Homo sapiens: one gene and its partners. The protein of the gene in region 2 interacts with the protein of the main gene of each other region in a pairwise test. Each region holds a gene or a part of one and is shown on either strand. Other genes may lie near its edges.

Evidence for each region.
Region 1: the proteins of TFAP2D (region 2) and PLEKHG4 interact in binary tests that used the Homo sapiens proteins (3 or more experiments, as listed by UniProt).
Region 3: the proteins of TFAP2D (region 2) and FAM168A interact in binary tests that used the Homo sapiens proteins (3 or more experiments, as listed by UniProt).
Region 4: the proteins of TFAP2D (region 2) and CEP76 interact in binary tests that used the Homo sapiens proteins (3 or more experiments, as listed by UniProt).

What each region holds. Positions count from the first base shown.
Region 1 is NC_000016.10:67,282,227-67,290,212, reverse strand, and holds the end of PLEKHG4 (puratrophin-1), read right to left. Parts: coding exon 7,864-7,986; intron 7,711-7,863; coding exon 7,572-7,710; intron 7,472-7,571; coding exon 7,355-7,471; intron 5,939-7,354; coding exon 5,756-5,938; intron 5,501-5,755; coding exon 4,998-5,500; intron 4,924-4,997; coding exon 4,677-4,923; intron 3,940-4,676; coding exon 3,850-3,939; intron 3,769-3,849; coding exon 3,547-3,768; intron 3,465-3,546; coding exon 3,294-3,464; intron 3,214-3,293; coding exon 3,036-3,213; intron 2,316-3,035; coding exon 2,199-2,315; intron 2,047-2,198; coding exon 1,813-2,046; intron 1,738-1,812; coding exon of another isoform or gene 1,725-1,737; coding exon 1,609-1,724; intron 1,411-1,608; coding exon 1,405-1,410; 3' UTR 733-1,404; downstream 1-732. Other genes in the region: BTB/POZ domain-containing protein KCTD19, read left to right, coding at 531-644. UniProt on the Homo sapiens protein: Possible role in intracellular signaling and cytoskeleton dynamics at the Golgi.
Region 2 is NC_000006.12:50,743,820-50,751,805, forward strand, and holds part of TFAP2D (transcription factor AP-2-delta), read left to right. Parts: intron 1-1,287; coding exon 1,288-1,429; intron 1,430-7,391; coding exon 7,392-7,505; intron 7,506-7,986.
Region 3 is NC_000011.10:73,594,471-73,602,877, forward strand, and holds the start of FAM168A (protein FAM168A), read right to left. Parts: upstream 3,643-8,407; 5' UTR 3,453-3,642; intron 1-3,452.
Region 4 is NC_000018.10:12,678,012-12,685,997, forward strand, and holds part of CEP76 (centrosomal protein of 76 kDa), read right to left. Parts: intron 2,818-7,986; coding exon 2,651-2,817; intron 432-2,650; coding exon 98-431; intron 1-97. UniProt on the Homo sapiens protein: Centrosomal protein involved in regulation of centriole duplication. Required to limit centriole duplication to once per cell cycle by preventing centriole reduplication.

The DNA of each region.
Region 1 (7,986 bases), on a different chromosome or scaffold from region 2:
GAGCGAGACTCCGTCTCAAAAAAAAAAAAAAAAAAAAAAAAAAAAGAAAATATTCAGTAAGGGCAAAGGAATGATCAAGGGTTTTTTTCTTTTTCCTTTTCTGATTCCTTAATCTAATTTTAACATTGAGGCCGAAACGATTTAGGCAGTTTCTCATTGATCTGACACTTCTATAATCAAGAGCATTATTATAACACCTTTCACCACAAGCCCTCTAGTACCCAGTTACCATTAGGCATCTGGCTCATATGTGGTTTGTAAAGGTGAAGTCAGCATGTATGGCTAAAAAGCAGAAAACCAGTAGCAGGAAACAGATTTTTGAACCTCCGGTCTTTCTGCTTTGTTCCCTGATAGCCATTTCTAGCCCCACCCTGTGAGATGCCCTGGGGCAGAGCTGGGCCCTAGAGCATCAAAAGTCCCCAACAGCCGGGCTTGCCCTGTCCCTGCCCCAATGGGAGAACCCCACCCACATGGAGCTAGAGTAGACAACTGGCCAGGAAATCAGGGATAAGACTGGCCTTTCCTTCCAGCTTACACTGCCCTTCGCCAGGAAATATGGCCGATGCATGGACCTGCTCATCCAGAGGGGCCTGTCTAGGTCTGTCTCTTACTCCATCCTGGGAAAGTACCTACAAGAGGACTAGGGTGCCCAGAGATGCAGCCCCTCATGCCCCACCCGCCAAGTCTCATTTTAATTGGAGATAGCCCAGAATGCATGTGCCCATCAGAGGGTACATATCAGTCTATTTTTTATTATAAACAAATAAAAGATTAAATCACACATCAAAGACCTAGACTCCTTCTCTGAGACACCAAAGGCCTAACAACCAGTAAGATAATTTTAGACAATTCTATTGAAAGTTATTCAAAAGGCATCAAGTCAAAATAACGAAACTGCCCCAGTAAAAAGGGGCTGGGCCTGGGGGCCAGGAAAGGCAAGCATGAGGGCCCAGTAGAGGTGGACCTGTCCCTATGGTAACTGAGCTCGGCTTTAAGGCCAGGCATTGGGGATCAGCTGCTAGGAGCCCACCTGTGTTCTTCCTGAGGGGTGGGGGCACCCTAGTCACTGCCTAGAGGCACATGGTCCCCCACCAGCCTACAGCATGGAAACACCCAATGTCTGCTCTAGCCTATTCTTAACCCACAACTGGGATGGGAGCTGGGGACAGGAGAAGGGGTCATGGGGCCAGGAGCCTATTCAGGCTCTACAACCAGACTTCCCTAGAGAGGCCCCGTGCCAGTTAGTCCAATGGCCACACACATCAGAAAGGGTAGTCAACAGCGTTGCACATGTAGGTTGGAGGTAGCCCAGGTGTCAGCCACACCCTGGTCACAGCAGATCCAGAGAGGCAATGTTCCTTGGAGCTGCAGGCTGCTGGATCTACTGCTCGTCCAGTCCCGGGCTCAGACCTGCAGGGCCAGGCCAGGCATGAATGCCTGCTTCCCTGACTCTGGACCCAGGAGGTGTCTGGGGAATGGCTCTGGCCCACCCACCCCAAGCTCTACCCAAAGTAAAGGCCTAGCCTGGGCTGGGGAGGGGCTGGTCACAGTCACAGGCTCAGCTTGGGCTGGGGAAGGGCTGGTGGGTATAGGGCAAATGGCACTCACACAGGGTAAGTCCTCCAGGCCCCTACCCAGGGCCTGCCCTGACACACAGCTGCTGTCAGAGCCACTGGAGCCACTGGCTGATGGGCATTGGGACGAGATCTCTGAGTCCTCAGCAGCTAGGGAGGGAGACTGGGTGAACTGTCAGCACGGGAAGCCCCAGACCCCAAGCCATGCCCTCCTGCCTCTGGCTAGGCCCAGACATACTCAAAGAGGGCTGGCCGCCCAGCTCTGCCTCAGCCTCCAGTGCTGCTTCCTCTGGGAAGCTGGGATACAGGGGACAGCGGAGACCCAGAAGAGCTGGGTCTCTGTACAGGTGCAGGTTGAGGGACCCCAGAACAGAGCAAGAGGCAGGGTCTCCAGGAAGGGAGTTCGAGGCCCCCAGGTAGAGGCTGTCATGGTCAAACGGGGCTACGGCAATGGACGCCCGAGAGCGAACTTCTGCATAAGAGAGAGGGTCAGGTTGGGACAGGCCAGAGCCTAGCCTGGCCCCAGATCCCAAGGAAAGTGCGGGCCAGCACTAATGGAGGGCCACAGTGCTTCCCGCACAGCTTTCCTACTCCCACCCCCACACCCTGTAGCCTGCCTGCTACCTCGGCACTTCAGGACATAGTTGACGGTGCGGTCGTTGATGGCTTCCTCGCTGGGAGCAATGTCTCGGAAGGCCTTGTTCCCCACACCCATGGACACCATCTCAGCCATGCGCACCTCTGGGTGGAGAGTGGACATAAGTGGGATGCTTCTGGACATAAGCCTGTCCTTGGGCCTCTACCACCCCCCAGATAAGTCTTTCCTGTACACCTCCATCCAGCACATTAACTGTCCTGTGAGCTGAGCCTTTCTAGTGCCAGGTGCTCTCCTCCCAACAATCCTGTGGGGCAGGTGCCATATTCCCCTTTTAAAGATGAGGCCCCTGGCTGGGCGCAGTGGCTCACGCCTGTAATCCCAACACTTTGGGAGGCCGAGGTAGGAGGATTGTTTGAGCCCAGGAGTTCAAGACCAGTCTGGGCAATATAATGAGACCTCTATGAAAAAATTTTACAAATTAGGCATGGTGGCACATGCCTGTAGTCTCAGCTACTTGGGAGGCTTAGGTGGGAAGAATGCTTGAGCTCAGGAGGCAGAGGCTACAATGAGCAAAGATCATGCCACTGCACGCCATCCTGGGCGACAGAGCGAGACCCTGTCTCCAAAAATAAAGAGAGAGAGAGCCATGATGCCCCTTATATTCAGAGAAGTTCACGTTGTGTCCAAAGTCAGAGGCAGTGACAGCAAGGCTGCCTGGCTTTGAAATCCTTTCTCCTGCACTGGTGGCTGTCGCTGGGCCTTCTCCCCACTTCCCGAGCTTTTCCCAGGTCTCTGGGCTCCTGTGGGTCAATGTAAGCTCTCCAGTGAGGGGAGTGTGGCGTGAAGGAGGGGCATGGACCCACCCTTGTTGTGGACGGCCTGCCTCCAAAGCAGGTGGGAGATGTCAGCTGTCCAGGCCTGCTTGATAGCCAGGCTGGAGGCCTGCAGCACAAAGGTGTCCCTGGCCTTGCGGCGGCGGAACCAGATCTCGAAGCGCAGGTTGCTGTTCCCACAGCACTCAGTGAGACCAAGGTCTGCCATCTGTGGCCAGCGGGAGAGAGGGGCTTGGTAAGGCATGGGGCGGGAAAACAAGTGGTGGGGCCTGGGGTGGGCAGGCCTACCTTGAAGGAGCGCTTGTAGGCAAATGTGTCAACCCCTGTGGGCCCATGGCGAGGCTTGCTGAAGAGCAGCAGCTCCTCAAAAAGGAAGATGCGGCGCACGGACTTGTGGCGCCCAGTGCGCACCACAAACTCATCCTGTCGCACCAGCTGCCCCTGTTCCTTGAGGTTAACCTGCAGAGTTGGGGGCTGGTGGGTGGCCAGCCTCTTCTGCCTTCTTCTTCACACCCACTGCCCTTGCCCTGGGATGACTCACATCACAGCCCTGGATGGCGTCCATGGCCAGCAGGTCGTTTCCGTGCCGCAGCTGGAAGTGCACAAGGCTCTGGGCCTCCCGCAGCGCACTGAGCTCCTGCGTGGGGCCCCCGCAGGCCCGTGCCAGCTCCTGCAGCAGCAGTGCGTACTTGCCCATGCGCTGGATGGGCTTTAGCAGGTAGGAGGCCAGGTCCAGGTGGTCCCCCAGTGCTTGCTGCTTGTCCTGTGGGCGGATGGGAGGCCACTGAGTGGTTTGGGGGCACTCCCCGCATCCCCTACTCCTCCTAATCTCAGGTTCACTTACCTTGAAGAAGGTGTGCCCATAGCTTGACATCAGGGCATCGGAGCGAGGCTTATTCTTGCTGTAGAGCGCGTACATCCCAAACTGCACCCTCTACAAGGACATGTGGCTCAGCCCCAGTGCAAAGGGGCCAGCTCCCTAAGGCTGGCACAGGCTAGACCACCCTCAGCTTGAGAGGACCAAAATGCCAGTAGATGCCTCTTAGGGAGGCCTCCCCTACAGACCCAGTCTTCCCTGCTTTGAACAAGGGGTGATTTGGCAAGAACAGTACTGGGCAAAGGGGGTGTGCCCACAGGCCCCCAAGGAAGAAGCCCCTTGCCCTCAGACTGAGCTCCTGCCTTCAGCTCTGCTCCTCCCACGGCTCTAAGAGCTCACCTCACCTGGGACTGTCCTGCTCACTACACTCAGCCACCTCCTTGGCAGGCCCCCTTTCCTCCACACGACCTTGTACTTGCTCTTTCCTCTGGGTGGGACACTCACTCCAGCCCCTCCCCTATTCCTCAGCTTAAACATCAGCCTCTCAAAGACTTCCTCTTGTACCAGGTGTCCTGGCACCGCACTCAGGCCCTCTAAAGTGGAGCCCCTGCCCCGCCAGTAATTCACAAGCATCTATCCTGCTTATTTTCCTCCTAGCCCCAACTATAATCTACAAGTATCGTTCTTGCTTCTATGTCTCCTCTACTGGACTAAGAGCACCCTCAGGTGCAGGAGCCTGCCAGTCTTGCTCATAGCTATACTCATAGCACAGGGACTGGCACCAAGCATGTGCCCAGCAGCAACTTCGGGAGTGTGGCAGAACGAGCTGATACCACATGGCCTGTCGGGCTTACATGGCGCAGGAAGGCATAGGCCACTCGTGGTGGGTGCCGGGTGCAAGCCTCCAGCTCACGCAGGAAGAAGTGGCAGTGGAAGTCCCGCAGCTTCTCCAGGTTGCCAAAGAGGTGGGCACGCTGACCGCGGAGGCCCTGGGGCACATCGGGGCGATCCAGCTCGGGGAAATAGTTCTCCATAGTGTACTCTAGAGCCCGGACATACTCCCGCTCCGTGGCCACCATCTCTGCCAGCACCAGCTGTAGCCTACCAGGTATGGGGAGTCAGGACCCAAGACATCTCTCCTTTACTGCCCTCCCCGCCCTGCCTACTGCCCATACCTGTTGAGGCTCCTGGGGTCAGAGCTGCCTGGTGGAGGCACAGTAGGGGATGCCTGGGGCAGGGCACCTCCTCCAGCCTCTGGTCTGCGGCAGGCAGCAATAGTGGCCGCATGGTGGCAGTGGCAGGCAGGTTCACTGAGACTCTGCCCCAGATTCCGATCGAAGCTGTAGGCCTTCCTCAGGGGAGGGTGGGCAGGTGCAGCGGGGACCTGGCTGACACACAGGCTAGCTGTGCTGCCCACCGGTGGTAGCTTCAGTGAAGCCTCAAGCTTTTGGTCCAGGGCCAGCCAGGTGTCCTGGCACCGCGCCCAGGCCCAGCGGCACTCCTGGCGGATGGCCTCTGAGCCCAGCCCCGTGGCCAGAGCCCACATCTTTCGGAAGTGGGCAGGAGGCAAGTCAGGGTGCCTGGTCCAGTGCAGCTGCAGCTGCTGCAACACAACCCCCGGGCGTTCCTGCTCCAGCTCTGCCAACACTCGCTGCCCCTCCTCAGCCCACGTCAAGGCCTGCAACACCAGGGCCGGACAAGCATTAGAGGAAGATCCTGCCAAGCCTGCTGGGCACTCTGCTCCTCTACCCACTCCCCATCCCCACAGGATGCTGTCCAGGACACAGCCCCAGTGACTGGGTTTTAGGGTCAAACTGAAGACCAGGGAAGAGAACAGGCAGCATGACCAAGAAAAGCTCAGGCTCTGCTGAAGCTGGGGCTGCCATCCCTCCGGCCTCATGGATCACTTGGAGCTGGGGAGACTCTCACCCACCTCCCTGAAGAGCTGAAACAGCCTCTCAGCATCCGCCAGCCGCTGGCACCGCTGGGCCAAAGCCCTAGAGAATTCAGTCAGCTGGGCTCGCAGGGCCAGAAAGCGTGCCCCAGGGGGGTCCAGTTCAGCCGCCTCCCAGCCAGTCAGCGGCTGCAGAAACTTCTCCCCTTGCCTGACCTGCTCCTGCAGAGACAGAGACTAGGCTCAGCCAGCCCAGGCCTGGCGGTCTAGCCCCCAGACTCAGATACTTCCTGCTGACATATCGACATGTCCCCATCAAGTCTGTCCTGTGGTGGAACATCTACCCGTATCTCCTACTCCCCACCCACATCCACTCCCCTTCTCCACAGCCAAAGTTCCTAGAGGAATCATCTGTCCTCACCGTCTCGTCTCGCCCTCCGCACCAGCCCTCTCCAGCTCCACTCTGCCCCGTCCCCAGCGCTTCTCAGGCCTCACTGACTCCAACTCTCAGCGTCATTCAGCCCACTCTCTACTGGGCTCCCCCAGCTCCTCCCCACGCTCCTGATTCTCCTCACTCTTCTCTGGTGGCTCGTCCTGCTCCCCTTCCCTCACCTAGGCCATTAAACACTGGGGATCCTGAGGACAGTGCACTCGCTCTCCCAGGCACTCTTGTGTGACCAACTTCAAATGTCATCCAAACACCTGGACCCACCAAGTGATCCTCTCCAGCTAGACCTCTCCTCTGAGCTCCAGGCCCAAGACCCAAGGGCCCTCCTCTCATCCCTCACAGCCATCTCGAGCATGCCCAAGACCGGACTCTTGAATGCCCTTCCCCCAAGATGACCTCATCTCCTAGTCTCTCAGGGAACAGCACCCATTCATCCTTGCAACATCCTTGTCCCTTACCCTCCCACATGGGTACATAGCAAATCCCATCAACTTCTCCAACCCGTCTCCCCTGCCACTATCCTGGCCAGAGGAGGCACTATTTCCCACCTAGACTACTGCAATTGCCTCTTCACTGCACTCCCCATGCCCATCCTCCAAGTCACTGTCTACTCGGAAACGAAGGCAATCTTCCTAGAATATGGATCTGATTACATGGCCTTCCTGATTAAACTCCACACTGACTGCTACAGGGCCCAGTGATGTGGCCACTGACCAGGCTTGTCCCACCGCAACTCCCCCAACTCTTTCTTCCTCTCTGCTCTGCATTTCAACCTCACTGGCCTTATGATTCCTCAGGCACACCGTCCTCCATCCTGCCACAGGACCTTTGCACATGCTATCTTCCAAGCCTGGAATGTGCCCCCATCCTCAACCCTCTTCTGCCTGGTTGACCTCAACTTATCTTTCAACTCTCAGCTCAAAAATCACCCAAAAAAAGCTTGCCTGACACTCCTGCTGGGTAAAGTCTTGGTTATACCCTCAGGCAGAATCACCTGCACTGATTCTCTCCAGAGATCTTGCCTGGGTTTACAGGCACATATATGACTGTGATTAATTACAACTGATATCTTCTATGGGACTATAAGGTCTAAGAAAGCAAAGGATTGAATTGCTTTCACACAGTTCTGCATTCCTAGTTCCTGGCATTGCATCCCAATACCCGTGGCATGAACAAGTGACCACATATACCTGGGCAACCTGGTACAGCTCCTGAAAAGAGCCTTGGGCCTGGAGCAGCATGTCCAGCGAGGGCTCCCCAGCCTCCTCCAGTGCTGGCCAGCCCACCTGCTGCAGCCACACTTCAATCTGGAGGAGCACAAGCAGGGAAAAGTGAAGAGAGCTGCTATGGACTGGGGGCTCACGTCTGAGATCGGGGCAGGGCCCACTCTGGGCAAGTAGTTCCGACCTGGTGCAGTCCGCTTTCCCGGGCCTCCAGTGTTTGGACCAACTCTAGGGCCTGTATTCGCTGGTTGCTCTGCAGGGTCAGTTGGTGCAGCAATCCATCCACCCGGTCATATAGCTCGTCAGCCTTGTCCATTGCCGTCCTGGTGTAGGGTATACCATCTTAGACCCCCTGCCTTGCACCACTCCACCCTGTCCTGGCACCACAGTCCTACCAGGTTCTGAGCTAGCCAGATGAGTCCTGGCATAGAATATGGTGGGCTGGGGCAAGATCTGGGGGCCGGGCTTGCACTCACCTGTAGTCTGGGCTCAGGGTCACCTCTGGGACCTCTTGCTTCAGCCATGTCAGCTCCCGGCCCCCCTGGCATTGTAGCCATGCCAGCCATGGCGAGTCTAGCACCTGCTGCATCAGGACCTCT
Region 2 (7,986 bases):
AACATGAAAAGATTATAGGTAATATTCATATAGGTGCAATAAAAATTACAAAGTGCTACTAAGATACTTGTTGTTGTTGCTACTATTATTGTTATGACTATCATTTTCCTGGAGACAGGCAATCTTTGGTACTCTTTTATAGTCCCCATTACTTCTACCTAGCACTGTGCCTTGAATAAGGTAGGTGAGTAGATGCTTAGTATTAACAGATACACAGTACAAACTTGATTTTATTTTTAACTTTTAGGTTCAGGGGTGCATGTGCAGGTTTTAATATAGGTAAACTGTGTCATGGGGGTTTGGTGTACAGATTATTTCATCACCCAGGTAATAAGCATACTACACAATAGATATTTTTTCTGATTCTCTCCACCCTCCTACTTTTTACCCTCAAGTAGGTCCCAGTGTCTGTTGTTCCTCTCTTTGTGTCCATGTGTTCTCATTGTTAAGCTCCCACTTATAAGTAAGAACATGCAGTATTCGGTTTTCTGTTCCTGTGGTAGTTTACTTAGGATAATGGCCTCCAGCTACTTTTGCAAAGAACATGATCTCATTCTGTTTCTGGCTGCATAGTGTTCCATGGTATATATGTACTACATTTGTTTAGAAAACTTGATTTTTTAAATAAAAGTTTAGTGGACAGGTAAGATTTGCCTTGACTGAGCTTTAAAAATAACATTGTTTTCCAGATTGATTTTCATCACTTAATTTTACTTTGCTGGGAAGCCATTCGTACCCCATTTCTTAAAAATTTACTTGGGTTTAGGATTTTGTGAAAGAACAAAGTTATTCATGATTTTCCAAAGTTCTCCGACTTCCTCGAAAAGTTATATGGACCCTTCGCAGGTATTTTAATAGGTCTCATGGAAAAAACATCTGAATAGTTTAGACACACTAAGAATAGGTTGTAGGCTCAGCAGCCACAAAATGACTTGTCCATGGGGCCATTTTGCTTGGGAATCATGTGTAAAACCTAGGAAGTCAGTCTGGTCTAATGGCCAGAGCCATGAGGGGAATCAACACTTCTGGATTGTGTTTCTGTTTTTTTCCCCTCAATTTTCCACCTATCCCTGCCTGCTAAGTCACTTCTCTGTTCCTCAATTTCCCCTCATTCTTCCTCATTACCTCCCCTCCTCCCCCCAAAAAGGTCTTTTTTCTTGAATAGTTTAAGTAGGAAAAATGATTTGTCTGACCACAGCCAGGAGTGAGGCTTGAGCAAAATGCAAGACACTACTGTTATTAAGGTTGGATACTGGTGAGAAACTCACTTGTGTTATCTGCCAACAGGGGAGGCTTTGCACTTGGCTCGGGATTTTGGCTACACTTGTGAAACAGAGTTTCCAGCCAAAGCAGTAGGAGAACATCTTGCCAGACAACATATGGAACAGAAAGAACAGACAGCAAGAAAAAAGATGATCCTGGCGACCAAGTAAGCAGAATGGGGAAACCTCTGTGTGCTTTCATCTTCAGTATTTTTTTTTCATTTTCTTTGAAATGAGGAAAACAGTCTAGAAGGCACCCGTTCTCTAAAACAAGGAAGGTCTCACACACAAGCAGCTAGATATATTAAACAAGGACTTTCTACCCTTTGGTGCCCAGGCAAGGTTTACAAACTGCCCTTGATTAGTGATAAGGCTGTCATTGAAACTGATGAAAGTTCTTGGAAAACTTCTCCAGAATATGCAGAAATCCCTTGGAGAAAAACATGTTTAGGAAATGTAGATCCCAGGCAAATATGTCTTTGGTTGCTATGTAATTTGGTCTAAGGCACTCATTTTGCCTTAATAAATGAGGGTAAAATCTCAAAACACCATAAATGTTTGGGGAATGTGACAGAAGATGAGGTCACACGTTGGTGAGAGGTACCAGGGAGACCTCTGGGACCAAGGATCACCATGAGTGTCCCCATCCTCTCTTGTGTATGAGTAAGTAAATCATCCTTGTACTGCCTCATAGTGTTATTGTCTTTTTTTTTTAAGGTATAATGTATTTCAAAGCTTCTGGAAATTGTAAAAAGCCCAATTAAAATGCAAATTAAAATAATGAGGAAAACGATGTAGACAAATTTGACAATACAATAGGAAAGGGGGAAGCTTGCATAAGATGACTTATAAATTCCTTGACACTTGAAAGTTCGTCGATAATTAGTGGGAATACTACCATTTATTGTGTAAAAATCCAGCAGAACCGCAGATAGCACTGCAGGTTACGTTCAAAAGTTTTAGAGGAAAATCCTTCTGGTAGTAACCAATTCTTGTTATCCTCTCATTATTGAAATAAGTTATTGATACATATAGGCCATTAAGAATCTTAAATAATTTTTAATTCTATATTAAGATTTTAGAACTGATAGTTTCAGCTGGTTAAACTGTCATTTATGAACTAATTTTTTATTCAGGGAAAAGTATTTTGTTTGTTTGTTTGTTTGTTTGTTTGAGACAGAGTCTCACTCTGTCACCCAGACTGGAGTACAGTGGTGCGATCATGGCTCACTACAGACTCACCCTCCCCAGGTTCATGTGATCCTCCCACCTCAGCCTCCCGAGTAGCTGAGACTACAGGCATGAGCCAGCACACCCACCTGGTTTTTGTATTTTTTATAAAGATGCATTTTTGCCATGTTGCCCAGGCTGGTCTCAAACTCCTGGGTTCAAGCAATCTGCACTCCTTGGCCTCCCAAAGGGCTAGGATTACAGGCATCAGCCACTATGCCCAGCCTTAGGGAAAACTTTTTAAGAGAAAATCTAGGGCAGAGAGTATTAAAAACATCACTTCTTAGAAACTGATAACAAGTAATTATTTAATGCCTTTACAACATACTGGCTGAGATTTAAATTGGCTCAAAATGCATAAAACCAAAACTAAATATTCTCTTTTCTACCAGCTTCTTATGTAACATAGGACTTTTTACAAATTTAAGGAGTATATGGGATACTTGCCATCTCACAGGTTTGTCCAAGACACTTGAGTCCCTTAATTGAAGTTTACACACTTGCTGTGGCTGGCACTGTTTGGACTTAGGATTATATTTATCTATTGCTGTTCTGAAAGTACTAGATTATCTCATCTTGTCCCAAAGAGAAGAAAAGCAAAAGTTGGTGGCAGAAGGAATAGAGAAAAAGCAAAACAAGATTAAGAGGAAGGGAATAGCAGAAAGAGAGTATGAAGATCAAGAGATAGAGAAAGAAACTTATAAGGCAGGTATAAAAGTTGGACTTAAAATCTGGGAATAAATTTTGTGAAGTGGAAGCCCCTGAAAACTTGCTAGTAGAAAAGACCTAAATCTGAACCTTTTGCATATTTTGTCTTCTGGGAGTCTTTATCTTTACCATGTACTCATTTCCTTTTCCAAATAACTTATTGACTAAATTTTTTTTCCAAATAATTTCAGTCATATTTCAGTTTCTCCAAAAGGAGCTGAAAGCACATATAGTTAGTTTGAATCCTTTGCATTACCGTAGGAGAAAGATAAAGACTTGTTACAGATCAAGAGAATTATACAGTACTAGAATTTAGGTAATATCTCCCAGGTGTTTCCATAGCATATCATCCTAGCTGGCAGGATCATGCAGGTTTACCAATGCACATATCCATGTGAATTTTACTGTTGTCCCAAAATACAAATTTCCAAGAGAAAGCACCTTCATTTTTCCTACATCAAAATGACTTGGTTGTGGTTTTATCATGCATATTCAAAGACCTTCACTCCTTAATCCAGAGAAACACTTCATCTTGTCCTCCTTCCCCCAGGAATGGTTTTGGAAGTATTCACCACTACCATCATCAATGCAATAAATACAATTCCTATTTTCTTGGAGATTCCCATCATTCTGTTGAAGTGTGCAGCAGTCTCCAAGCACATTCAAATTGGCACCGAGATTGTGTTTTAATAGAAGTAAATGCTAGAAGAATTTGCGGGAGAAATGCTAGAAGAAATGCATCCATATTTGTCAAAATTATACTGAGACATCTATTTTCGGGTAGCGTATTTGACCAGGTAGTAGTATTTTCCTTTTACCTGGGATCTAAGTAACATACATTATTTTAGGTGATATTTTGAACTTTGATTTCATTAAACATTGTGAGAACATGTAATTTTATTTTATCTGTCTGCTCATAGCTGCACATTTGCAGACCATTAAATGTCAAGCAAGAATTGAATCCACTCATTTCAATTAACTTATCTTACAGAAGAGTAAATAGGAATAAACACCTGAAAATTATAATACAGCTTTATAATTTTTTATTTTTGTTACTTATATGCATCCTATCTTCTTATTGGACTATGTGAAATAAAAATCAGAGACTCCAGTCATAGCAAACATACGTAATATAACCAGTAATCACTATAACTAGATAAACTAGGGAATGTGTGGAAATAATACCCTTTTTGTGCAACATATGAATGGACCCAACATGTGTTCTGAGAAGTTTCTAATTTTACACCAATGGTAAAGCATGAGGTATTTTCATCAATTAAAATGGTAAAAGTTAATATTAAGTAGCCTATATGGATATTCATTACATCCTGGTCAGTTCACCTTTATTCATAAGACTTGGACAACATTATAAAAAATATATATGAAATCTAAAATTTATTGAATGAGAGATCCAATTGCTAATCTACATTGTCAGATTGGCCTACATATTTCTTTTTTACCTCCATGGATTACAGATTCAGTTGTCTTTAAGTATATTGCCAAGTATACAATTGTATAAAGGGCCTATTAATTAAGTGTCATTAGTCTTCTCATGCCACCTTATTTCCAGTGTTTTGTTGATTAAATATTTTGTGTAATTTAGACATTTATTTAGGCGAAAGAATAGAAACTGAAACATTTTTTGAATTCTAAAAATGAATCAGACAAAACGTGTTTATTTGGTTAATAGAAAACATATTTAAACCTTTTGATTGAATTTAGAACTAAATATGTCTAACATTTGATCTGCATTAAGGTAAAGCAGAATAGTTAACAACTTTTAGTGTTACCATACTGTTAATCATCTAAGGGTGAAACATAGAATTTGGATTTCAGACATCAGCTAAAAACTTACGTCCTTAAGGACAATGATGTAAGTGATAAAGTTAGAATGTATGATTCACTGAAGATCATCTTGTGTTACATAATTCATAATATGACATTTTGCCTTGAGATGTAAGATTGTTTCTTTTTGTAGATTTATAAATAAAAAATTAAATAAGAAGGAAAGTAGTCATAAAATCATAATTCTGTAAGTGCCATAATGAGATGATGATGATAATTGCCTACAGGGAATCTACAGGATTGTCATCTGTTTTCAAGTCTAAGCTTGAAAGTGAGTGAGTTAAGCTGTAGAATTAAATATAAAAGGGGGAGATATAATATAATATAATATTACTCCTGGTAGATCCTCCTGTGTGAATTATTTAGCATGAGTTAAATTTTTCCACCTCTTTAGCTTTCTCTAATTTCTTCGTCAATTTTATTATAACTTGCTGTATTATTCATACAGGAACAAAGTTGATTTGTCAACTTAAAAGTTTATTCCATTATCCAATTAATTCTGATATTATGCCACAATAACTAATGTTTCAATCTTTATTTTAATGTTTTAAAATTTATTTTAATCTGATAGAAAAACTAAAAGACTGCTAAAAACAAAAGTCTAAAAACAACACCAATCTTTCTTTGTAAGAATGGATCGTAATGATGACCTACCATACAGTAATTTGGAAATGATAGCATGAGGCTAAATTTAAAATTTTAGTTAGAAATTTCCATAAACAAAGACAACAAATCTATATTAAATAACACAAAGCACAAAAGATTATGATATACTCCTCAAAATGGCACCAAACACTTAGATTAAGTTGCATTCATTGATTAAAATATGGGCAATACACCTGAAAACAGGTATATTTCATAAAGCAACTGAGTCTCACAACAGAAAATGTGAGGAGTTCAGAAGAAACTGTCTGAATGAAAGTAGAAACACACAGTTGTTAAAAGCATGTATTCAGATGCTGTATCTCAGAGATCCAACTGGCCCTTTAGGAAGGGGATGTGAAGTATCTTATTTCACTGAAGCAGATAAGGACTTTGTTTTTCCTATCTCTGACTCCTTTTTACTTTCACCTGTGTTCTGCAAACATGAATAAGGCAATTTCTGTGAAATGACACAATATTTGAACACTGGCATTAAACCAGACCCTCATTGTTCATTTAAAATATCATAAGTGATCTTTGATGGAATTCAATAAATTTTAGATACCTGATTAAGAAGTCCCCACTGATTTTTAACTCAGTGATCAATTATTTGTACTTCAAGATATTTTGTCACTTTTTGGTAGTCATTTGTTGATGACACAAATGCCTTGCAGCAGAATAATGGCCGGGTTCATATTCACTTGAAATAATTTGACACTTCTATACCTGTCTTTGTTTACATTGATAATCAAAGTCAGGGCTACATTATTACATTTTTGCGACTGCCCATTGTAAAAACAGACAAAAAACCTAATTACTGTCATATTATCCCTTGATTTATGGAGTCACCTCACTTTAGATGATGGATGTTTTTAAGCAATTCTTTGGCAATCCTTTACTTTTCAGAGACTGGACTAATTTAGTGTTTTGTTGTTAAAATACAAAAACAAAAACAATATCTCTTTGTATAGTGTATTCTGCTTCTTTAGAATTATATCATTTGGAGTGTACATCACAAAGTCTTTACTGTTACATTGTAACACTGTAATTAAACTGAAACCAATGACCAAAAACCATAACCATTTAAAGCAAAGAAATGCAGCAGAAAAGTTACCTTGAGGGTAATTTTTGCAAGAAATTGGCTTACATGGAACATAATATAACCATTTTTTGTGAGGCTAGTGAACTAAATTACTGGTGATTATCTGCTTCAAATATTAGCATATAAAGTTAGCTCATAAGAATATGAACTCTAATGCAATATTGGGAAAAAAGGATTTTCCAAAGTCTGTTTGAATAATGGCTCTGAAGTAAGACTGTAACTTTAATTAAATTTGTTTACAGATATTATGTCTTAAAAAATCACATTTCAATTAAAAAGATCATAGTGATCATTTCATATGGGGTTCCCCTTATCCTGAGGTTAATTTATGAATAGTCATCTTAAAAATAAACATTGGTCTTATCAGTGCTCATGGATTGTTATTTGTTTGAAATGTTGTATGATTATCCTATAGCCGTTGAGAGCAAAGTCACCATTATGAAACTCAACTGTATGCTATGAATGGAACTTTTGAGGTTGCTTTATGAAATGTTATCTAGACTTCTTTTAAAAGAGAGAACAAGCCTTTGGTTAAATATCATGGGATGAAATTAAAGCTCAATTTGAAAATTTCAATTTTAAATTTGATTCTTTTATTTTAGACAAATCTGTAAAGAATTCCAAGACCTCTTGAGCCAAGATAGATCACCACTGGGATCCTCCAGACCCACTCCAATTCTAGACCTTGACATCCAGAGACATTTAACACATTTCAGGTAAGACTGGTTTTCCAGTTTGCTCAAATTCTTTACTAACCCAGATGCTTGTATTCCTATCACAGTTCTATTTAGAGATACCACTTATATGTTTATATGGTGACTGTCCTAGTCCTTTCAGATGGGCTATAACAAAATACCTTAGACTGGGTAATTTATAAACAACAGAAATATATTTTTTACAGTTTGGAGGCCTGGGAAGTCTGAGATTAAGGTGCCGGCAGAGTTAATTAGACAAAGGCTTGCTCTTTGCTTCAGAGATGGCACCGTCTCCATTTTCTCCCACATGATGAAAGGGCCAAACAAGATCCCCTGGGCTCTTTTATAAGGGCACTAATCCTATTCATGAGGGTTCTGCCCTCATAAGCTAATCACCTCCTAAAGACTCTATTTAATACTATTGCATTGGAGATTAGGTTTCAGTATATGAATTTGGAGTGGGGTGGAGGGGACACACATATTCAACCATAGCAGTGATTGA
Region 3 (8,407 bases), on a different chromosome or scaffold from region 2:
AGTGGTATTAACTATGTTCACAATGTTTTGCAGCCATTACCACTAAATATGAAAGGTTTTTTGTTTGTTTTTTGTTTGTTTGTTTTGAGACAGAGTTTCGCTCTTGTTGCCTATGCTGGAGTGCAATGGCGCAATCGTGGCTCACTGCCCACCTCCCCAGTTCTAGCAATTCTCCTGCCTCAGCCTCCCAAGTAGCTGGGATTACAGGCACGTGCTACCAGCTAATTTTTGTATTTGTAGTAGAGATGGGGTTTTGCCATGTTGGCCAGGCTGATCTCAAACTCCTGACCTCAAGTGATCCACCCACCTCGGCCTCCCAAAGTGCTGGGACTACTGGCGTGAGCCACCACGCCTGGCCATCTGAAAGGTTTTTAATGACTTGACTGAAATCACTCAGCTTTCAAGTAGTAGAACTGGGATTTGAATCTGGGACTCAACTCCTAAACTCATGGGCTATTCGTTCCACAAAGGCTTCTGTCTATCAATACCTCCATCTGCTCTCTTCTCACCAAGATATCGGGAGGATCAAATGAGGTAAAGATACAAAAACACATTACTACTACACAGGTAACCACGGCTGTGGAAAAAAAAAATCCACCAACACATTTCTCCCAGGCACTTTTCATTTTGGGCTTTCAAAAGCTAGGGCTTTAATATAAACATCCCACCTCTAGACCAAGCCTGCAGATCTGCAAAAACAACGTCTAGACCTCAGAGTAAAGTTATGAGAGAAATGCTCACATTAGATTACAGTCTCACTGAATTACAGGTAACTGCTCAAACCTGATCTTTATTATAATACAGAAAGCTTCCTCATTACAAAACACTTTCAATTCAAAGGATAAGTCCAACGTTCCATCATTCTGCCCATTTTGGAGCTAAAAAAAAAAGATTCTAAATGGTATTTTTATATGCTCAATCGTGAAAGCCAAGGAAAATGGTTTGTTTGCGAGCTAAATTCTGAAGCTTGAACAAAAATAAAAAGAATTATTTCGATCCCAATGGTGCCAATTTTATCTTCTTTACATCCCTCCTCATTTTTTTTCAGTCTGAGCTCTAATCAACAGCCACTTTATGTTTAACATATTATCACAGTTAATGCAATTAGGTCCATAGAACTGTTTCTCTAAAGATGTTCCCTCCATTTGCACTCCTGTGTACCTTCCATTATCATCGTTCTGCCCTAAGAATGAGCATATCGCTAAGGTTTAAATCGAATTTCTGATGAATAGGTGGAGATGCTGTTTCTGTAGTTAATACAATGCGACTACATCAACATCATTCCCCAAAAAATAAAATAAAAATGACTCAATATGCTTTATTTATTCACATCTGACAGAATTCTGATCACCTGAATTCCTTTGGAAGAAAATTCAATCTTTAGAAATACAGTCCAATTATTCTAAATCTTATCAATGTCAAAAGACAATCATATGAAAAACTCCATCAGTACCAAACCATCTCACCAATGAATATTTATGACATTTCCATATTTCCTGTCTTCTCTGTTTACATAAAGCGGTGGTGCCAAGACTCATCTCAGGATTATTAGCCTGCAATACAATGATGGGCCTAATTGCCTTGCAAACCAGGACACTAACAAATGGCGTCTTCAAGCAATCAATTTAAAGAGGGGGTAAAAAAGGCCCAAGCTCTTTTTGCCTATGTGCTTGTTACCTACCTACAAAATAAATTCAGTCTCATATTTTTCAGGCTCACTCATTAGTTCTCAAGCAAGGAATGCACCCTTAACAATCTCAAGCTCATCAAATCTATTTAAATTTCAAAATGCCTGGCTAGTTTTTAAATACACCAGGAGGAGAGGGGAAAAGAAAAGGCAGAGACATCATATAGAAAGATATCCATTACATTCCAGTTTATCTTCTCCCACCTTTAGTTTGGAAGTATGCTTTTTTCCCCCAACTTACTTTTTATGATATACAAATAACAGAAGACACCCTCCCCTCCTTAATTCTACCTTAACTAAATCCCCTTTCAACTTTACCCTTTGGGCTGACTTGACTTCCAAATTTTACTAATATAAATAAAACAAACAAAAACATCACCCGAACAGATTAAAATGGCCCCTAAGAATGAGAAGGTCTCTTCCGTGTCCCCTGCAAAGTCCCCTCTAACAGCCTTACTGCCTCTCACCCAACCACAGCCACCAAGGCTGTTCATTTAAGTATTCCAACCCTTAACCCTCATGTGTCTCTTGGAGGCCACCCCAATCCTTCACCACCAAAATAATCCAACCCAATTCCCCCCTGCTCTCCAGCACAGCTCACTGTCCCTCTCCATCCTCTCTGCCCCATCCATACCAACAGCTCCAGGTCTCCCATTCCTTAAATTTCCCCTGTGCCACCTCACCATCAGCAACCACCTCCCCAGGCCTACCAGCTCATCTCCGAAAGTCCTTCTCCAAAACTCCCTCTGCCACCTTGGCCAAGGGATATTTTCTTCAAGATACCATCCCCCAACTTTGCTCACCCCTGCCGCTATCCTTTCAATGAAAGCAGCCCAGTGATGTTTTATGTGCCCTCTGCCTTGACTCTGCAACCAAGGAGCCACCATGCCCTTTCCAGTGATTGTAAGATCACCCTAAATCCAACCCACTGTGCCCCACACTCCATTTCCATCCCTGTCCTCCCATTTCGGGCCTGACTTCCAATGTGGCCCCTTCCTGCCAGCTCACCATCACACTCCCCTCACTGAATGTCCCACCTCCACCAACTCCTATTCCAACCTCCATCAGCCCACCCCAGGAAACCCCCAAATTGCACTCTTCTGCTCTATCCTAACCCATGCTATTCCATAAGTCTCCACAAATTCCACCAGCCCCAGATGACAAACACCCACTTCAAGCTTGGGTCTCAACCCATGCCAAGCCCCTCACCCCCAACTCCTGCCACCTCCATCATCCTGCCCCAGGTCCACCCCAAATTCCACCCTTCTGAATTAACACTACGCAGGGCCCTAACCAACCCTGTACATGCCACTCACTCTCCGTTGAAATCATTCCCCTGCCCCTCACCCCAGCTCAGATCCCAAGCTGTCAACTGCTCCAGGCCAAACCCAAATCACCACCCTCATTCAGTCCCCTCCCCCATTAAAAGCCATCCCACCCTAGTCTCATCTTCCACCTCGCCCCAAGACCATCCCGAATTCCAACCCGACGCCCCCACCCCACTCTCCTGTCCCAGGTTGGGTTATTCTCCATCAAAAGTCCTCCTCCCTTGTCGCCCGCCCCCCAACCTGCTTGGGTCCCACCCTCACCCCACCCCCGGCCAGCGCCTGGACAAGTCTCCCCCGCCAGCCCGCCGTTCCATCGCGACCTCAACCCCCTCCCCCCAACCTGCACGGGGGCTCCGCAGCCTCCCCTCTCATTCTCGCCAGCGCCACCGGCCCAGACTCAGGACCAGCGGACCCTGTGGCGGGGGGAGTCTCCTCACCGGTGAGCAGCTGCAGGCGAAAACGGCGGCGGCGGCGGCTGAGGCGGCGATGCCCTTGTCTTCTCCGGAGGCTACGGCGGCGACGCTCTCGCCCGTGTCCAGTAGGGTGGCGGATGGCGCGCGGGGACCGGAGCCTCCTCCTCAGCGACTCGGCTCTGAATCCTCTGCAGTAGCCGCCGAGGAGCCCGACGGGTGGGGGGAGGGGACGCTCGGCTGCGGGCGAGGGAGGAGGAGGCGGAGGGAGGAGGCGGGGGACCGCTCAGAAGGGCAGGGAAGGAGGAGCCGGCGCGGCGCCGCGACACGTCCCACAGCCTCAGAGCGCCGGGACCACAACTCCCGGCATGCCCTGCTTTAGCCCGCGCGCGGCCTGCGCCTCCCGCCGCGAGCCCGGTGCAGAGGGGCCGCGCCCTCTCCGGTCACGGACAGTGGAATAAAGCCAACCATCCGCTGGCGAATTTTGTAGACTCAAAGACCACCTGTGAGGAAAGTCAGGTCGCCCGAGGCCCCATCCCCAAGGGGCCGTACTCGCAGCGTCTCCATCCTCTTTGCATAGACACCCCCCTCCCCCCGCCCACACACACACACACACTCTCTGTCTCTCCCTCTCTCCCTCTCTCCCTCTCTCCCTCTCCCTCTCGTCTCTGTCTCTGGACTACACCTCCCAGCATGCCCCTCAGCTTCCTATTCTCCTTCCGGACCCTTCTCAGACCCGGTACTACAGTTCCCAGGGAGTGTGGTCCCTGCGAAATGCTGGGAGATGGAGTTCTCGGTTCTTCCTCCATGTTAAGAAAAAGAAGTGAAAGAGAGGCAAAAGGGAAGGAATACGCCAGCCCACCGAGGATGGGCCTTGATGGGCTAGATCACCTGTGATTCTGTTCATCCCTCGCCATCTCCGTTTCAGCTGTCTCTCACCAGAACTAATGCCGGAGCTTCCTCGCTGGTCTCCCTGCAAATTTGAGGACGATTCGGCAACTTGAATCCAAACGACAAAGGGCATATCCTCTTCTTGACCCAGCTCCATTACTTTTAAGAATTTACCTTAAAAAGATGATCGAACAATTTCGAAAAGATGAATGCACAAAGTTGTTATATGACGTAGTTAATTATGAAGGGAGTAAATGTTCATCGATAGGGTGCTGCTTAAATAAGACGTGACATATACATACAATGCAATACTAAGGAGCCATTTAAAATGATATAAATCTATTGACATGAAAAGCTATTCACAATTTATTCTTCGGGGAAAAAGTTGATTACACAACAGCATGTCTACACGAGTGCATTTATGTGAGGTTTGACACAATATTCTACAAGCATGGAGAGATTTCAGGAAAGAGGTTCGCCAAAATATTAGCAATGATTATCTTGGGGGAAAGGGTGTCAGATTGCACGTAGGTTTTTTTTGTTTTTTGAGACGGAGTCTGGATCTATAGCCAGGCTGGAGTAAAGTGGGGGCGATCGCAGGTCACTGCAACCTCTGCCTCCCGGGTTCAAGCGATTCTCCTGCCTCAGCCTCCTGAGTAGCTGGGACTACAGGCGCGCGCCACCACATCCAGCTAATTTTTGTATTTTTAGTAGAGATGGGGTTTCACTATATTGGCCAGGATGGTCTCGATTTCTTGACCTCCTGACCTGCCCGCCTCAGCCTCCCAAAGTGCTGGGATTACAGGCATGAGCCACAATGCCCGACTGTAATTTTTGTTTTCATATTGTTTGAATTGTTTAAAAGGAGCACATAACGACTGTTTTTTGTTTTCTTTTTTGTTTTGTTTTAATTGTAAGAGACGTCGTCTCACTATATTGCCCAGGCTGGTTTCAAACTCCTGGCCTCAAGAGACCCTCCTGCCTCAGCTCTCAAAAGTGCTGGGATTACAGGTGTGAGCCACACTACACCTGGACAATTTTTTAAGCTGTGCTACTTCCAAAAAACATAATTTCCAAATCTAACAACCTTTCTTTGCTGCCTAGATGCTTTCCATGGCTTCCCATTGTCTCATTCATGCTTCAGCACTGTGCCTGCCTGGTTTTAATAGTTCCACTATTAAAACAAATAATAGTAGTCACTTCCAATTCATAAAGTTGGAAGGGAGAATTTTCTCAATTTTCAATGCGTCTTCTCAAAATTTTTCCATTTCTGGTCTTTCCACACCCATTTTCTCCTTTTCTCTTACTCATTCTTCAAACTCAAGCCAAAGTCCTACCTTCCCTAGAACATATTTTAGACACACTGGTTTTCCTTATATCTGAATTCTTTTTTGTTTGTTTGTTTGTTTGTTTGTTTGTTTGAGACAGAGTCTTGCTCTGTCAGCCAGGCTGGAGTACAGTGGTGCAATCTCGGCTCACTGCAACCTCCGTCTCCCGGGCTCAAGCAATTCTCCTGCCTCATCCTTCCGAGTAGCTGGGATTACAGGCATGTGCCACCATGCCTGGCTAATTTTTTTTTGTATTTTTAGTAGAGATGGGGTTTCACCATGTTGGCCAGGCTGGTCTTGAACTCCTGACCTCAGGTAATCCGCCTGCCTCGGCCTCCCAAAGTGCTGGGATTACAGGCGTGAGCCACCGCTCCCGGCTTATCTGAATTCTTATAGCAGTGGTTTCTAATCTGTTGGCCAGAGATCACGGTGGGGAGAGGAAGTGAAGAGAGAGGTACAGAGTTATTGTAAAGGGCCTATGCAGCTCTGCCTACACAAAGCTATATGTCTTGCACTTTAAAAAAGTTTTTCTCTTCTTCTGACCCTTGTGTCCAGCTCTTCTAGAATACAGAATGTAGTATCAGATTATTTTTGATTTCACGATTTTTTTCATTTAAGCCCTGTTTGACTTGATATTTTCTTCTCTTTTTTCATTTTTTGAGACAGAGTCTCGCTCTGTCGCCCAGGCTGGAGTTCAGTGGCATGATCACAGCTCACTGCCGCAGCGACTCCCTGGGCTCATGTGATCCTCCCACCTCAGCCTCCCAAGTAGCGGGGACTACAGGCACCACCATGCCCGGCTAATTTTTCTTTTTTCTTTTTTTTTCTTATAGAGACAGGGTTTCGCCATGTTGCCCAAGGTGGTCTCAAAGTCCTGGACTCAAGTGATCTGCCCACCTCGGCCTCCCAAAGTACTGAGATTACAGGCATGAGCCACTGCGCCCAGCAGAATTTGATATTTTCAATTTTATATGCCATTGTTCCTTGGTGTTCTGTAAGAACAACTAGGACACTTTAGCTCTGCTACAGGCCTACAGGAAAAAGCCCAGGTTGCTTAGCTCAGAGGATGACTTAGTCCCCATCCCGCTGCAGCGTCTCTAGCTTCACCCCACCTCACTCTAGTTAGACTCCTGTCCCTCAGGACTCACTTTCCCCAAATACATCAGGCACTCTCTTTTTCAAACTGCCCATCTCCCTTTACATCCTATTCTCCCAGCCTTAAAATCTCAGCCCCTCTTCTCCCTTTTCTGAGAATAATGAGAAAGATACCTATCATATGTTGGTGATATGTGACAAACAAGTCTCTTCCTCTTAGTGTTACACTGACCTTGCCCTCTTCTAAACCCCATCTTCTCCTCTTCCATTTCCCCACTTCTTTCTCCTAGTGGCACAAAGTAGGGGCTAGGCGGTCTACCTAGTAGGGGCTAGCTTGGTCTATCCAGCAAGTAAAGCATTGTCTGAGTTAGGAGAATAAATAGGTATGAGAAGCTTACTGGACTAGTAATCTGAGAATCAGATCCTAAATTAGAACTTGCCATAAACATGATGGGTGACATTTAGTAAGTCCCTTAACTTTTCGAAATCTCAGTTACTATAATACATCCGCAAAATGGAAGGAATGAGTCCCGCCTGCCCTGCCACCTCATAAGGTTATTAGGAGAATCCAGTGAAAGAATGGGTGTGAAAGTGCTTTAAAGACTGTAAAATACCACTTACAGTCCAAACCCTTCATCTAACCATTTGAGAATTCTCTCTCTAAATCCCTGCAAAATCATGATATGTAAACTTTCAACTCTGATTTATATCAACATTAATGAATTTATGAAAGTTTTAAAGAAATGAACTATATTAAACCAATTTAATTCCTGGATAAGTTTTTGATATAGCACAGTTAAGTGATTTCTAACTTTTAAAAATATTTTTCTATACTGAATTTTTATCAAGAGATATATATATATACTTTTTTTTTTTTTTGAGATGGAGTCTCTCTCTGTCGCCCAGGCTGGAGTGCAGTGGCGCGATCTTGGCTCACTGCAAGCTCTGCCTCCTGGGTTCACGCCATTCTCCTGCCTCAGCCTCCTGAGTAGCTGGGACTACAAGCGCCCGCCACCACGCCCAGCTAATTTATTTGTATTTTTAGTAGAGACGGGGTTTCACCGTGTTAGCCAGGATGGTCTCGATCTCCTGACCTCGTGATCTGCCTGCCTCAGCCTCCCAAAGTGCTGGGATTACAGGCGTGAGCCACCACGCCTGGCCTCAAGATATATTATTTAGCAGCTCGGTGCTGTGGCTCATGCCTATAATCCCAGCACTTTGGGAGGCCAAGACAGAAGGATCCCTTGAGGCCAGGAGTTCAAGACCAGCCTGGGCAACACAGTGAGACCCCATCTCTTCAAAAAATAGAAAAATTGGGCTTAGCATCATGCCTCACGCCTGTAATTCTAGCACTTTCGCAGGCCGAGATGAGCGGATCGCTTGAGGTCAGAAGTTTGAAACCACCCTGGCCAACATGGTAAAACCCCGTCTCTACTAAAAATACAAAAAATTAGCCAGGTGTGGTGGTGCGCACCTGTAGTCCCAGCTACTCAGGAGGCTGAGGCAGAAGAATCACTTGACTTGAACCTGGGGGTCAGAGCCTGCAGTGAGCAGAAATCGTGCCACTGCACTCCAGCCTGGATGACAGAGTGAGACTTCATCTCAAAAACATAAATAAATAAAATAGAAAAACTGGCTGGGTGTGGTGGCACGCACCTGTAAGTTCTA
Region 4 (7,986 bases), on a different chromosome or scaffold from region 2:
GCTAGAATAGTGACTGGCACTATCACACACACCAAAAAACAGTTAAATACATAAATGAAAAGAAGTATGAAACTACAACTATTTCAGTGTGAATTACCTTCCTGTGTTCTGACACCAGGAGCCTCAGCTGCATTTCAATTTCATTACTTGTTACTGACGCGTCAATTGTGGATGCACACAGAGGTGGAAAGGGAGGAAGGGATGTTGTAGCTCCAGGAGCACACACAGATTTAATTGCTTCCTCACTCATGGGTTTCCATTTGGATTCATCGTTCAAATCAAATACACAGGTTTCTACTGCATCAGAGGGTTGACAATTTCCCAGGAACATCTGATGGTTGAAAACACAACCAATTGTTCGATATGGGTACAGTGGTTTGGGCTGTTCAGCAACTGGAGGTTCATCAGGATTGGTAGGTTTATGGATGTACCTAAAAAAATTAAATAATTTTATATATGAGAACTTAAAAATTAAAAAGGCAGCATCTTACTGAGAAAATTATTCTAACACTTAAGGCCATAACTACTTCTCAGAACTACAGTTTAATACTTGTTTTTCTTTTTTATATTTCCACAATTTGATTACTCTGTATTAATTGTATGGTACGTCTTTACAATATTGAAACCAACTCTGTTAACAACAGAATACATTCTATGTATACTGTTAAGATCAAAGGCCGGATGCGGTAGTCCCAGCACTTTGGGAGGCCGAGGCAGGGGGATCACCTGAGGTCAAGAGTTCGAGACTAACCTGACCAACATGGTGAAACCCCGTCTCTGCTAAAAATACAAAAATTAGCTGGGCATGGGAGCACGTGCCTGTAGTCCCAGCTACTCGGGAGGCTAAGCCAGGAGAATTGCTTGAACCCGGGAGGCGGAGGCTGCAGTGAGCCGTCCAGCCTGAGCAACAAGGGCGAAACTCCATCTCCAAGAAAAAAAAATAAAAATAAAAAAAGTTTGCCTCAGATAACATAATTAAAATAATTTGGTTATGCATTTTTAGGCACAACTAACCAAAACATTATTAGGCATGATTATCAACCAGGGAGAAAGAGGACTCGGGAATGAAAAGAGGGCCCAGGGCTGGGCCTCTAGAACACACACATTTAAAGACAAGATGAAGGAAAAACTAAGAACAGCCAGAGAGGAATAATAAATATTGAAAGACAATGATAAAAAAGAAGCTAAGGAAAGAGAATGTTCCATGAAGAAAGAAGTGAGACAGCCAGGTGGAAAGGGGTCCCCAGAGAAACTCCAACCAGCCTGTGCACTGGGAGGAGTGCACACTGGGGAGAAGCCACAGAAGTTCGAGCAATTTGCAGTGGGGAGGAGCTTGGCCCCTCCTCTTCCTGAGTGGAAGCTGGAATTCAATCTGCGAGGCAGGAAGCACACTAGCAGGCAGGAAGCACACTAGCAGGCACGAAGCACACTAGCAGGCACTCTGGCTTTGTGGAGCGTCCGTTTCCCAGTGTTTTTCCTTTTTGTTCAATAAATTCCATTTTTCTCCCCCTTCAAATTGCCTGCGAGCCTAATTTTTCGTGGCCATGTGACAAGGACTCAGCTCTTAGCTGAACTAAGGAAGAAGTCCTACAACAGAAGTACTCAGCTGTTTCAAAATCTAATGACAGGCTAAAGTACTTTAAAAAATGTGTCCAGTGGATTTGCCAACGTGGAGATGGTAACCACATCAAATTTTAAAAAGAAATCATCATTTACAACTTGAACTTATTTTCAGACTTAGGTATGATCATCAGAAAAAAACATATGCCAGCCAGGTGTGGTGGCTCATGCCTATAATCTCAGCACTTTGGAAGGCCGTGGCAGGTAGACTGCTTGAGCCCAGGAGTTCAAGACCAGCCTAGACAACACAGCAAAAGCTCATCCCTACAAAAAAATTAGCTAGGCATGGCTGTGCACACCTGCAGTCCCAGCTACGCAAGAGGCTGAGGTAGGAGGACCACCAGAACCCAGGAGGGGGAGGCTGCAGTGGGCTGTGACTGTGCCACTGCACTCCAGCCTGAGCAACAGAATGAGACACTGCAAAAAAAAAAAAAGAGAAAACTGAAAAAAAAATATGCTAATCATACAAAACTAGTAAACATAATTTACTGTTTACCAACATCATGTTGGTAAAGAATATTTGAGGTAAAAGTTTTCTTAGAGTTCATTTACTTGGCTGCCATAATTGAAGTACTTTTTTACATAATCACTGAAAAGGCTCTAACTAAAATCATCAACACGTACCTTCAAGTACCATCAATATGGACAAAAAACCCTTATAATTTAAAATACTTATAACTTAAGCCGGACACAGTGGCTCACGCCTGTAATCCCAGCACTTTGGGAGGCTGAGGTAGGTGGATCACCTAAGGTCAGGAGTTCGAGACCAGCCTGGCTAACATGGTGAAAACTTGTCTCTACTAAAAATACAAAAATCAGCCAGGTGCGGTGGCACATGCCTGTAATCCCAGCTACTTGGGAGGCTGAGACAGGAGAATCGGCTTGAACCTGGGAGGTGGAGGTTGCAGTGAGCTGAGATTGTGCCAGTGCACTCCAGCCTGGGCGACAGAGCGAGACTCCATCTCAAAAAAAAAAAAAAAAAAAAACTTATAACTTCATTTTAATATCCTTATAAACTTAGTAAACTAACCTGTGTCCTGTTAAACTCTCCCAAAAAGTGATGGCCCCATCAGTTCCACAAGTCATAACCCATGCATGAGGTACTCCTTTTGCCTTGGTCCCAACACAAACAAAGGCTTCTAATCCATATCCAAGAAGAAGGCTGCACAGAAGGTTAGCGTGATCTTCACAGTCACCCTGGAAGATAAATTAAAATGAAGTATTCATTCTTCCATATTATTTCCTCATTACATACTTAAATACTAAATTATAATAAAAATTTATTGGCTGGGCACAGTGGCTCACGCCTGTAATCCCAACACTTTGGGAGGCCAAGGCGGGTGGATCACATGACGTCAGGAGTTCAAGACCAGCCTGGCCAACATAAGGAAACTCTGTCTCTACTAAAAATACAAAAATTAGCCGGGTGTGGTAGCACACACCATTAGTCCCAGCTACTCAGGAGGCGAGGCAAGAGAATCACGTGAACTTGGGAGGCGGAGGTTGCAGTGAGCTACAATCGCGCCACTGCATTCCAGCCTCAGCAACAGAGTAAGACTCTGTTTCCAAAAAAAAAAAAAAATGTTTATAAAGAACTCACACAACACAGAAAGAAAAGTAGAACATTTTTTTTTTTTTTTTTTTTTGAGACAGGGTCTTCCTCTGTCACCCAGGCTGGTGACATGATTCATAGCAGCCTTGACCTCCTGGGCTTAAGTGATTTCCCCATCTCAGCCTCCCAAGTAGCTGGGACTAAAGGTGTGCACCATGACACCTAGCTAATTTTAAAATTTTTTTTGTATAAACAGGGGTCTTACTGTGTTACCCAGGCTGCTCTTGAACTCCTGGGCTCAAGTGATCCTCCTGCCTCAGCCTCCCAAAGTGTTGGGATTACAGGCATGAGCTCCTGTGCCCAGCCTGGAATATTTTAATAGATTAATAGCTGAAGTACATGAACAAACAAGCAAACAAGTCATACAGCAAGAAATGCAAATAAATGGAAAACACTCAACCAATGACTGATAGTATCTATATGTGATAATTTCAAGAAAATACATACATAAGAAAAATGACTGGCAAGAACAACAACAAAATGCCAACAATGGTTATTACTGGGGAGGTTATATATAATTTTCCACTCTTTTTCCAGATTTTCTTTGGTTATATTACTTTCAATTTTAAAAAGTTATAAAGACCTATAAAAAAATAGAAAATATTAGCTGGGTATGGTGGTGTGTGCCTGTAATCCCAGCTACTCAGGAGGCTGAGGCAGGAGAATCGCTTGAACCTGGGAGGCAGAGATTGCAGTGAGCTGAGATCGTGCCACTGCACTCCAGCCTGGACAACAGAGTGAGACTCTGTCTCTAAAAAAAAAAAGAAAAAAAGAAAAGAAAATATCTGATACTGTGTTCTGTGAAAAAAATTACCAAGATATTAAACACTATGGTTACAATTTCGTATTTAAGTGTAGGAAGACTACACGCGAAAGCAAAAATAACTATTTGAGTTGAGTGTCCGAATGAAGAAATTTCTTTTTTTTTTCCTCTCTTTTGAGATAGGGTCTAGTTCTGACACCCAGGCTGGAGTGCAGTGGCATGATCTCAGCTCAATGCTGCCTTGACGTCCTCAGCTCACTGCAGCCTTGATGTCCCCAGCTCAAGTGATTCCCCCGCCTCAGCCTCCTGAATAGCTGGGACCACAGGCACTCATCACCAGGCCCAGCTATTTTTTGTGTTTTTGTAGAGACAAGGTTTCACCAAGTTGCCCTGGCTGGTCTCGAATTCCTGGACTCAAGCAATCCGCTTGCCTCAGCCTCCCAAAGTGCTGGGACTACAGGCATGAGCCACCTTACCTGGCCAAGAAATTTCTTTCTCCAAAAAATTGGATTTGGTGGTGCTAAAGTTTTTTAAAAAAAATTAACTGTAAGAAAACAAATAGCATTTTATAGTTCTTCAAGTGGCTTTACAAAAATGTAATAACCAATCTTTTATTTTTTAATTTACTTTTTTCTTTTTTGAGACAGAGTCTCGCTCTGTCACCCAGGCTGGAATGCAGTGGCATGACCTCGGCTCACTACAACCTCCTCCTCCCGGGTTCCAATGATTCTCAGCCTCCTGAGTAGCTAGGACTACAGGCGTGCACCACCACACCCAGCTAATTTTTGTATTTTTAGTAGAGAGAGAGTTTCATCATGTTGGCCAGGTTGGTCTTGAACTCCTGACCTCAAGTGATCCACCCACCTCGGCCTCCCAAAGTGCTGCGATTACAGGCATGAGCCACTGCGCCTGGCTTAATCAACCTTTTAGACCCAATTATTTCTGAGATTTTGTCCTAAAGAAAATTCAGAAGTAAAATAAAAATATCTGCAAAGATAGTCAGTGTGAAAGTTCATTCATGGCAACATTAAAAAATTTAAAATGAGCTTAACTTTATGGCCAGGTGTGCCAGCTTTTGCCTGTAATCTCAGCACTTTGGGAGGCTGAAGCGGGCAGATCACTTGAGGCCAGGAGTTTGAGACCACCCTGGCCAAGAAACCCCATCTCTACTAAAAATACCAAAAAAAAAAAAAAAAAAGCCAGGCATGGTGGCTCCATGCCTGTAGTCCCAGCTACTCAGGAGGCTGAGGTAGGAGAATTGCTTGAGGCTGGGAGGCGGAGGTTGCAGTGAGTCGAGATCGTGACACTGCACTCCAGCCTGGGCGACAGAGCGAGACCCCGTCCTAAACAAAAACAAAAGAAAACAACAACAACAAAACCACTGAATAAAAAAAAAAGAGCCTAACTTGGCAGTTCCTACAATAGGGAAATAGTTAAATGTATTTTGTATATTGACTCAAGGAAACTTAAAACACTCATTAAAAAACGGAAATCAGCACTTTAGGAGGCAGAGGCGGGCAGATCACCTAACGTCAGGAGTTCGAGACCAGCCTAGCCAACACAGTGAAACCCCATCTCTACTAAAAATACAAAAATGAGCTGGGGGTGGTGGCGGGCACCTGTAATCCCAGCTACTAGGGAGGCTGAGGCAGGAGAATCGCTTGAACCCAGGAGACGGAGGTTGCAGTGGGCCGAGATCATGCCATTGCACTCCAGCCTGGGCGACAAGAGGAAAACTCTGTCTCATTTAAAAAAAAAAGGAAATCAGAAAGACTGTAGCAACACATAGAAAAATGTTCATAGCATAATGCTTAATTATAAAGCAAGATACAAAAATTTATTTACAATTATAATTATGAAATAAATGATACATATACAGCAGAAAAAATATAAAAAGAAATAATAAACTAGGAATAGAATTATAGGTAAAGTTTCACCATTACTGTTGTAATGCTGTTGTTTGTACAGTAAAAAATCTAAATATATATATGATATATATCATATATATGATATCATATATATATGTATTTTTTTTTGAGACAGAGTCTTGCTCTGTCGTCCAGTTTGGAGTGCAGTGGCGCGATCTCAGCTCACTGCAACCTCCACCTCATGGGTTCAAGTGATTCTCCTTTTTTTGTGTTTTTAGTAGAGATGGGGTTTCACCGTATCAGCAAGGATGATCTCGATCTCCTGACCGTGTGATCCGCCCGCCTCAGCCTCCCAAAGTGCTGGGATTGCAGGCGTGAGCCACCACACCTGGCCCATGCCTGGGTAATTTTTATAGTTTTTTAGAGAGAGGGATTTTGCCATGTTGCCCAGGTTTGTCTGGAACTTCTGGGCTCAAGTGATTTGCCCACCTTGGCCTACCCAAGTGCTGGAATTGCGGGCATGAGCCACCATGCCTGGCCTGCTGTCACCTTTATTTATTTTTTTTGAGACAGAGTCTCGCTCTGTCACCCAGGCTAAAGATAGTTTTTTGTTTTTTTTTTTTGAGATGGAGTTTTGCTCTTATTGCCCACACTGGAGTGCGATGGCGTGATCTCGGCTCACTGCAACCTCCACCTCCCAGGTTCAAGTGATTCTCCTGCCTCAGCCTCCCAAGTAGCTGGGATTACAGGAGCCCGCCACCATGGCTGGCTAATTTTTGTATTTTTTCAGTAGAGATGGAGTTTCTCCATGTTAGCCAGGCTGTTCTAGAACTCCCGACCACAGGTGATCCACCCTCCCCGGCCTCCCAAAGTGCTGGGATTACAGGCGTGAGCCACCGCGCCTGGCCTAAAGATAGTTTTACTTGTTTGTTATCATACTATCAACATTTTTAGAACACAGATTAGGAAATATCCCATAATCTATAAAATTAGTTTACTAAAATCAAGTCATTCAAAAAGTGTAATTAAATATACATTTGTATTTAAATACAAACTAAACAAACTAAATAGCATGCAATTCAAGATTTTTTTCTATTTTAATATTTTTTCTATATTAATTTTGTACTGCCATTTTCTCTTTTTTTTTTATGGAGTTTCGCTCGTTGCCCAGGCTGGAGTGCAATGGCGCGATCTCAGCTCACCACAACCTCCGCCTCCCAGGTTCAAGCAATTCTCCTGCCTCAGCCTCCTCAGTAGCTAAGATTACAGGCACGTGCCACCACACCACGCTAATTTTGTACTTTTAGTGGAGACGGAGTTTCTCCACGTTGGTCAGACTGGTCTTGAACTCCTGACCTCAGGTGATCCACCCACCTCTGCCTCCCAAAGTGCTGGGATTACAGGCATGAGCCACCACGCCCAGCCTTATTTTCTCTTTTTTAAAGATGTATTATCTGAGCAAATTGCAACACATCAGTAGTACCAGAAAGCCATGGTCTGGTCCTGGTGCTGTTCCTAATTCATTCTGCAACTTGATTTCTGACATTTTAGTACTTGTAGGTCCCTACATCACAGAAATCACAATAAATAAGAAACTACATGAGAAAATAAAGATGCTGAGTTTTTTGTGTATTGATATTTAAATGTTATGAAAAACAGAACAAGGTTCTGACGTGGTCAAGCTGATAGCACCCCAAAGCGGTTAGTTCCAGGACCCTTGCAAAACAAAATCCGTGGATACTCAAGGCTTATATAAAATAGTATTTTTTTTTTTTTTGAGACGTGTCTTGCTCTGTCCTCAGGCTAGAGTGCAATGGTGCGATCTCAGCTCACTGCAACCTCCGCCTCCAGGGTCCAAGTGATTCTCCTGCCTCAGCCTCCTGAGTAGCTGGGATTACAGGCACACGACACCATGCCCAGATAATTTTTTGTATTTTAGTAGAGATAGGGTTTCACCATGTTGCCCAGACTGGTCTTGAACTCCTGACCTCAGGTGATCCACCTGCCTCAGCCTCCCAAAATGCTGGGATACAGGCATGAGCCACTGCGGCCAGCCAAAATGGTATAGTATTTTATATATAACCTAAGCACATCCTCCTATATACTTTAAATCACCTCTAAAT